Homo sapiens: one gene and its partner. The protein of the gene in region 1 interacts with the protein of each later gene in a biochemical or structural test. Each region holds a gene or a part of one and is shown in the gene's direction. Other genes may lie near its edges.

The links. Proteins that work in one complex are often made in the same cells at the same time.
Region 2: the proteins of CUL2 (region 1) and TRIP12 form a complex in vitro, tested with the Homo sapiens proteins (one study listed by BioGRID).

The regions. Positions count from the first base shown.
Region 1 is NC_000010.11:35,034,590-35,038,536, reverse strand, and holds part of CUL2 (cullin-2), read left to right. Parts: intron 1-3,240; coding exon 3,241-3,365; intron 3,366-3,947.
Region 2 is NC_000002.12:229,920,168-229,923,767, reverse strand, and holds the start of TRIP12 (E3 ubiquitin-protein ligase TRIP12), read left to right. Parts: upstream 1-1,758; 5' UTR 1,759-1,888; intron 1,889-1,978; exon of another isoform or gene 1,979-2,497; intron 2,498-3,600. Other genes in the region: FBXO36 (F-box only protein 36), read right to left, coding at 1,159-1,254. UniProt on the Homo sapiens protein: E3 ubiquitin-protein ligase involved in ubiquitin fusion degradation (UFD) pathway and regulation of DNA repair.

The DNA.
Region 1 (3,947 bases):
TTTTTTTTTTTGAGACAGAGTCTCACTCTGTCGCCCAGGCTGGAGTGCAGCGGCGTGCTCTTGGCTCGCTGCAACCTCCGCCTCCCAGATTCAAGTGATTCTCCTGCCTCAGACTCCTGAGTAGCTGGGATTACAGGCGCTCATCACCACACCTGGCTAATTTTTTTGTACTTTTAGTAGAGACAGGGTTTCACCATGTTGGTCAGGCTGGTCTCGGACTCCTGACCTTGTGGTCCGCCCGCCTCAGCCTCCCAAAGTGCTGGGATTACAGGCGTGAGCCACTGCGCCCGGCCTCTCTGATTTTTAAAAAAACAAAAAACATGCATTACTTTTATAGGCAGGAAAGATAATAAATATGTATATTTTATTTAATTAATTAATTTTTTTGAGATGGAGTCTCGCTCCGTCGCCCAGGCTGGAGTGCAATGGCATGATCTTGGCTCATTGCAACCCCTGCCTCCCAGGTTCAAGCAATTCTGCCTCAGCCTCCCAAGTAGCTGGGATTGCAGGTGTGTGCCATCACATCCAGCTAATTTTTGTATTTTTAGTAGAGACGGGGTGTCACCATGTTGGCCTCCTGGTCTTGAGCTCCTGACCTCAGATAATCTGCTTGCCCCGGCCTCCCGAAGTGCTGGGATTACAGGTGTGAGTCACCGCGCCCGGCCATTAATCAGGCTTTTTGTTTTTGTTTTTTGAGACGGAGTCCCGCTCTGTGGCCCAGGCTATAATGCAGTGGCGCGATCTCTGTTCACTATAACCTCTGCCTCCTGGGTTCAAGCGATTCTCCTGCCTCAGCCTCCTGAGTAGCTGGGACTACAGGCATCCGCCCCCACACCTGGCTAATTTTTGTATTTTTAGTAGAGACGAGGTTTCACTATGTTGGCCGGCTGGTCTCGAACTCCTGAGCTCGTGATCCACCTGCCTTGGCCTCCCAAAGTGCTGGGATTATAGACACGAGCCACCACCCTTGGCCCCGTGTTTTTTACAGCAACATTAATTTCATAGATCCAGGGCAATGTAGTCAAAACCCAATAATTTCATTTTAATTCCGAAAGTCACTGTCTTGAAGAGTATGATGGAAAGACTTTAATGACCAGCAAGACTTATTGTAAAACCTATAGTAATTAAGACAGTGAGGCATTGGTACAAGGACAGACAGATATCCTAATAAAATAAGAGATCCTAGAAACAACCCAAGCATATGTGGCCACTTGATGTAAGACCAAGGTGGCGCTGCAGAGCGGCAGGTAAAAGATGGTCTTTTCAACACGCATTGCTCAGTCAATTGGATATCCATTTCAGAAGAAAATGAAATTTGATCACTACCTCAAGATACCATATACAAAATCAATTCACTATTGAGTTTTTTCTCTAAATGTACAAGGTAAAAAAATAACACTTCTAGAAGATAATATAGAAGAATATCTTCATAACCTTGAGACAGGGAAAGATATTTTAAATAGGACACAAAAAGCCCTAACCACAAAGGAACGATTGATCCAGTGAACTACATTAAAATGAAAAACTTTGGATTATTAAAAGGCCATTAAGAGGGAGGAAGATTGCTTGAGCTCAGGAGTACAAGACCAGCCTGGGCAACATGACAGTATCCCATCTCTGCAAAAAAATACAAGCATTAGCCAGGCGGGGTGGTGTGCACCTGTGGTCCCATCTACTTGGGAGGCTGAGGTGGGAGGATCACTTGAATCTGGGAGGTGGTGGTTGCAGTGAGCCGAGATCCTGCCACTGCACTCCAGCCTGGGTGACAGAGTAAGACCCTGTCTCAAAAAAAGCCATTAAAACCACTGGATCATCAGAAGACAGTTATAGGGTAATGTACCTGCAATACTAAAGATTTATATCCAAAATATAAAATGCTCAAAAAACAGGCACTGCAGAATAGAAGATACCCAGATGGCCAATAAACATAGAAAGAAGTGTGAAGTAGCAGGAACTTGTTGAACACTGAAGTGAGAGTATAAATTGATGCAACTACTTTGGGAAACTGGCACTGACCGCTAAGTGGGATATATTATGCATATTTTATGATCCAGCAGTTCTCCTAAACATATAACCACCCCCCAGCTTTACCTCCCCACTGCCAATGCCTGGACATATATACAAAAAGACATACAGGAATGTTCATAGTAGTGTTTGTAATAGCTCCATAAACTGGAACAGCTCAAATGTCCAGTTACTGTAGAATAGTACAGTATATTCATACAATGGAATATTATAGAGGAGTGGAAATGAACAAATTAAAGCCATGCACAACAACATAGATGATCCTTATACACATGTTGAACACAAGAAGCCAGACACGAAAGAATTGTGTGATCCCATTTTTATACGTAGTTCAAACTCATCTGTGATTTAGAAGTCACAGCAGTGGTTACCTTTGCAGAGGAGCAAGAGTGTGTGATTGGAAGGAGGCATGAAGGGGACTCCTGGGTGTAGGTAATGCCTGTTTCTTATCCTGCGTGTGATTACATGGGTGTGTTGTGTGTTCACTTGTGATAATTCAGTAAGATATACACTTATGGTTTGTATACTTTTCTGTATATGTATGATGCTTTAATGAAACGTTTAAAATTAAACCTACTACACTGAGAGATCATTATTCACCTCCCAGTGTTAGAGATCAAAACATTTGGCAACACATTGTTGGCAAAGGAACTCTCTGCTGTTGGCAGCTGTGGTTAGAAGGATCTGTCTACAAGATTAAACTTTGACACAGTAACCTCACTTTTGGGAACTTATATTGCATATATTCTTGCTCATGTATAAGATTATTGATTGCAACATTGCAATATCAAGAGACTGGAAACCACCTAAATTTCCATCAGTTGTTAAGAAATTATATCCACATAATGGAGTACTGTGCAGCTGTAAAATACATAGAAATGCTTTGTGTACTGATAGGAAAAGACCACTAAGTTAAAATGTGTTCTGAAGCTACAAATAATATACAAAATACAGTACACTGTATTAAAAGGGGCAAAGGGAAGAATATATGTATTCACTTGAATTTGCACAAAATATCTTTGGGAAGATGTTAAATAACCACATCCCTTTCCTGTGGGGAGAGGGGCTTGGGTGGCTGGGAGGTGGGCATGGGGGACTTTTCTCTGGGTGCTCTGCACTTGGATCCGTATATTGTACTCCTGCACTTGGATCCATATATTACCTAATAAATGAAAATATTTGGGAGTTAACCCTCAGATGTCTTTTTCCTCTCAGACATGGCAAATATGTACGTCTTACTCCGTGCTGTGTCCACTGGTTTACCTCATATGATTCAGGAGCTGCAAAACCACATCCATGATGAGGGCCTTCGAGCAACCAGCAACCTTACTCAGGAAAACGTGAGTTGTGTGGGAAACTGCAATGTTTTCCTCCTAATCAGATCCAGCGTGGAGCCTTTCCTTTGACTTTATTGTTTTGAAAGATGAAAGAAAAAGTCTTACCATGCCAACGAAAGAAATGTCTTTATTCAAATGTTTTAAACCTAGAATTTGTTGGACTCATTTTGGAATTATCAGATTATTAGAAAGCTATTGATAGGCTGCTGCTTAGCCATACGGAGGGTGTCCATTGAACAGTTGTTAACTTTCCACAGGAAAATAAGCTCGCCATTTTTAAATAACTGTGTTTTTGTGTAATTGGCATTGATAACGTAGTTTGTTGTCATGGTAGTAGTATTAATCAGTGGTAATATAGACGACTTGCAATTTGCCTCCTTTCCATATCCTCTGAATTTGGTTGTCCAGGAAGCAAATTTAGATTAAAATAATCTTCTGTAAGTATATGCTTGCTGCCCCAAATACCCAAAACAATAACCCTCATATCCCTAATACTCATCTTTCTCGAATACTTTGCCAATCACATGACTGTAACAGTTTGTACTGTAACAGTTTGTCTTTCCCATCACCAAATCTTGTTATTAC
Region 2 (3,600 bases), on another chromosome or scaffold:
GTTTAATTAAAAATTTGAGTCTGACCCTGGGCCCACTGCCTATGAATTAGCCCTGCTCCGCAAGGAGCAGTACTGTTTTAAAAAAAATTTTTTTTGGACAGGCTGATTTTACATTTGTAATATTTCTAAATCTTAAATTAAAAAATATATATTAACATTTATATTTTAAAAGATGCTTTCAAAAATATAAAAAAATTAACTCATTACCTATTTTGTTTAAGGGCTCCTGGAAAAACTGAGGGAATGATCAATATGCACACCAAAACAAATATATACAAACTTCTAAATTTCATTTTATAGGAATAGTATCTATTGAAAGGGCAGGGTGCATGAATAACTCAGTGACAGGCGTAAACTCAGCCAGGATTAGAAACGTCTTCCCAATGGAGGCCCCGCTCAAGTTGAGAATTTCATGGACACAGTAAATCATCCAAAAGCCCACCTTCAATAACCAAAGTAGGCATAAAAATAGGCCGATGGTTACTTTGGAGATAATATAATCCTCGGTCTTATTGTTGTGGAGCAGATGTCATTATGGGTGGGGCTGAAGCGCAGAGCAGCTGAAACATTTTTATACCACCACCCGCACACTTTCAATGGGATAGAAGGGACTCCAAAAGGTAAGAGCTCCCAATCGTCAGTTGCTACTAGAAATAACTAAGTTTTGATGTGGCCGTGGCACGCGTAAAGGCCACAAAGAGATTTATAAAATTCTCCATGATTAATTCCTATCCTGGAAAAGAGGCAATCTCCTTTTCCCCTCCCTAGCCGGCTCCTCCTTGGGACACTTGGCTGAGTCGTTCTTTCCCTCCTTCTCACGCTGAGGTGAGGCCGCACGCAAGCCGGAGACGCCCGTTTTCCTCTTCGCGCGGAGGAAACTCTACGGGTAAGAAGCCGGGGTGGCGGGAAAGGAGCACGCGGCACCGCGGGGAGGCAGAGAAGGCTTGCCAGGGACTAGCCGGGCTCGGGGAGAGCAGGGACACGCGGGCCGTCGGACCGAGGAGGCCGAGGTGACGAGGAAAATCTCCCGGCGCGGAGCCGGGACTGGGCGCTTCCGGCGGGCTACGGTTGCTCTTGGCCTAGCACAGCCTGCGTCCCGGGCCCCAACCGGGCCAGGTAGGGAGTTAGGAGAGAGGGTAAACCGCGGCTCGCACTTGCCTGAGACCGGGTGACCAGTAACTGGTAATAGTCTTTGCTAGGCGGCGGGCCTTGTCCTACAGTTTCAAAGAGAGTCTCCGGCAGCCACGACGCCATCTTGGGACGCCACCGCCGTCGCTAAGACAACCAGGAAGGGGCGGGGCTTGGTTGGGGTCAAGGGGCCAAAACCCTAGTTTAAATTGAACCACGCTTATGAGCTGGCAGAAGGATTTCTAACTTGGGGCGATCGTCCCCTCTTCCAAGGGTCTTAGGGAACCCTGATCCGTGAAATTTCCAGCTCCAGGTCCCGGGTGACCCGAGGGGGAATTAGTTCCTGCTACCACGGAGGGGAGGGGGTGACCCCGGCGGAGGGATACCAAGTAGATCTCCACAGTCCCCTTCCTGGTCCCTCGAAGGGATCGGGCGGAGATCGGAGGCTGCTGAGAGAGTCGAGCCGGGAGGCGTGGGAGGGAGGGGCGATGTGATGGGCCGCCAGTAGGCAGCGGTGCCGGTCCCGCGGACGAGCCCGTAACCGGAGCCCGAGGACAAAGTAGTTCCCCGAGGGTGTCAGAGCAGGCGGGGAGGGAGGCGGCACGGGCGGAGGCGCACGCCGGGCGCGGTGCTGCGGCTCAGCTGATAATTGAAGGAACCCGGAGCCGCCGCCGCCGCGCCGCTGGGGGGGGTGGGGGGAGCTAGTGGAAGTTACTGCCGCGCCACCGAGTCCGGACCGGAGACTTTGGGGCCTAACTAGGTAATTGGGGCGCAGCTCTGGGCGGCGGGGGCAAGCCTTGGGGGAGGGGGCCAGCTGAGGGGTTGGGGGGGCGGGGGGAGGAGCTGGAACAGAAAGTCCCAGGAAGCCCGGTTGTGTCATCGCCGCGATTCGGCCCCCGCTTGGCCTGCTCCCGGCGCCGGCGGCGGCGGGGCCGCGGAAGGACCGGGCCGGGGGTGGACGGGAGAGACGCTCGAGGGCGGCCGCGGCCGGAGGGACCGGGGCCTGGCGGGAGGTAGGGGTCGCTGGGTCCCTCCTCCGGCTTCCCGCAATGAGGAGGGCCCTTCACAGAACCGGGGTAAGGCTTGCGGGTGTTGGGGAGCTCGGCGGGGACCAAGGGGGGCCGGAAGTGGGCTTTGGAGCTTGGAGGGTGTCTGGGAAGAGAGAAAGTGGGGGGCCGGAAGTGCAGGTGGGGGGTGTGAAGACGGCAAGGGTTCCCCGGAAATGGGACGAGGGGCCCGGAAATCGGGAAAGGGGAGGCTCCGGGGCCGTGGACGGCCCGGAAATGGAAACTAGGAAGCAGCTCCAGTGACAACAGTTGTGGGAAGCGAGGGTCAGAGAAGGGAGAGGCCAGAGAGACTTTAGACCGCAGTAAGGGGTTTCCTGCCCAGGGGGACGGCGAGGGACGGTTGAGGGAGGGCGAGCCCGGAGACGGGGTCTGCGCGGGGCAGTTTTTTAAGCCGTGGGAAGTTGAGGCTGAGGGAGGATGATGACGAGGGGGGCATGCAGGGAGGCCTAAAGAAGCCGAGAAACTTGACTGAGAGGAATAGAGTATCCTTTTAAATAGATCAGAATGGAAATTGGTGGTAGGTGGGTTTAACTAGGACTTGGGGGAGGGAGGTGGGCCAATTGTCACCCCAATCGTATTAGCATTCAGAGCGAGTCAGGCGATTAATTTATTTATATGTGGATTACATAAAACCTATTATTTACAACGTTTGTCCATCAGTTCAGCCCCTCTCCTTCCTTCTCCATAGTGAGTGGGTTTCTAGTACAGGAACAAGTTAGAGGGGAGTTCGAATAACGAAGGTAGTAAAACCTCAAATCCTGTCTTCCTCGGCGTCTCTCCCTTCCTCAGAATAAGAAATCCTTCATTTCCTAGACGGAAAAATGCGGAAAAACATAAAAACACATGTAAATCGGGGGGAAATCACACTTTGAACTCCTGGTGGGGGACAGGAGGGAATTGGTTACCTTACGTGGTGAGGAGATAACGGAAGGGGCAGCTTCCAAACCCTTAAGACAAATGTTGTGTTTTTTTGATAATGCTGTTTTACTTTGGGGGAGGTTTAGCCTAAGCATCGAGTCTGGTGGTGGGCATAGTTTAATTGCTTCTTTAGTTAATTGGGGGAGGGAATGTGTTTGTGTGTAAAGGTTGGGCCGGTGCGGGGGGAGGCGGGTACGGTTAATAGCGCAGTGAATCCGTTCTAAGTGGACGTCTAACTGCTCTCCTGCTGTCTCCTTTCCTAGTCGCGGTCCTCGATCTTGCCTGGGCTGCCAGATCACCCGATCTCCGGGCTTTACTCCGTTTTGTAGGCCCTTTAGTGATGTGTTTAACTTTATGTTCCTCTCGAGAGTCTCATTAGGTATTTTTGGCATTTCATTTTTTAAAGACCTAGCAAGTTGAGTCTCAGAGTCTCCTCTTTAAAAACAAAACAAAAAATACGGGGTAGAAAGTTGAAAGAGCTATTGAG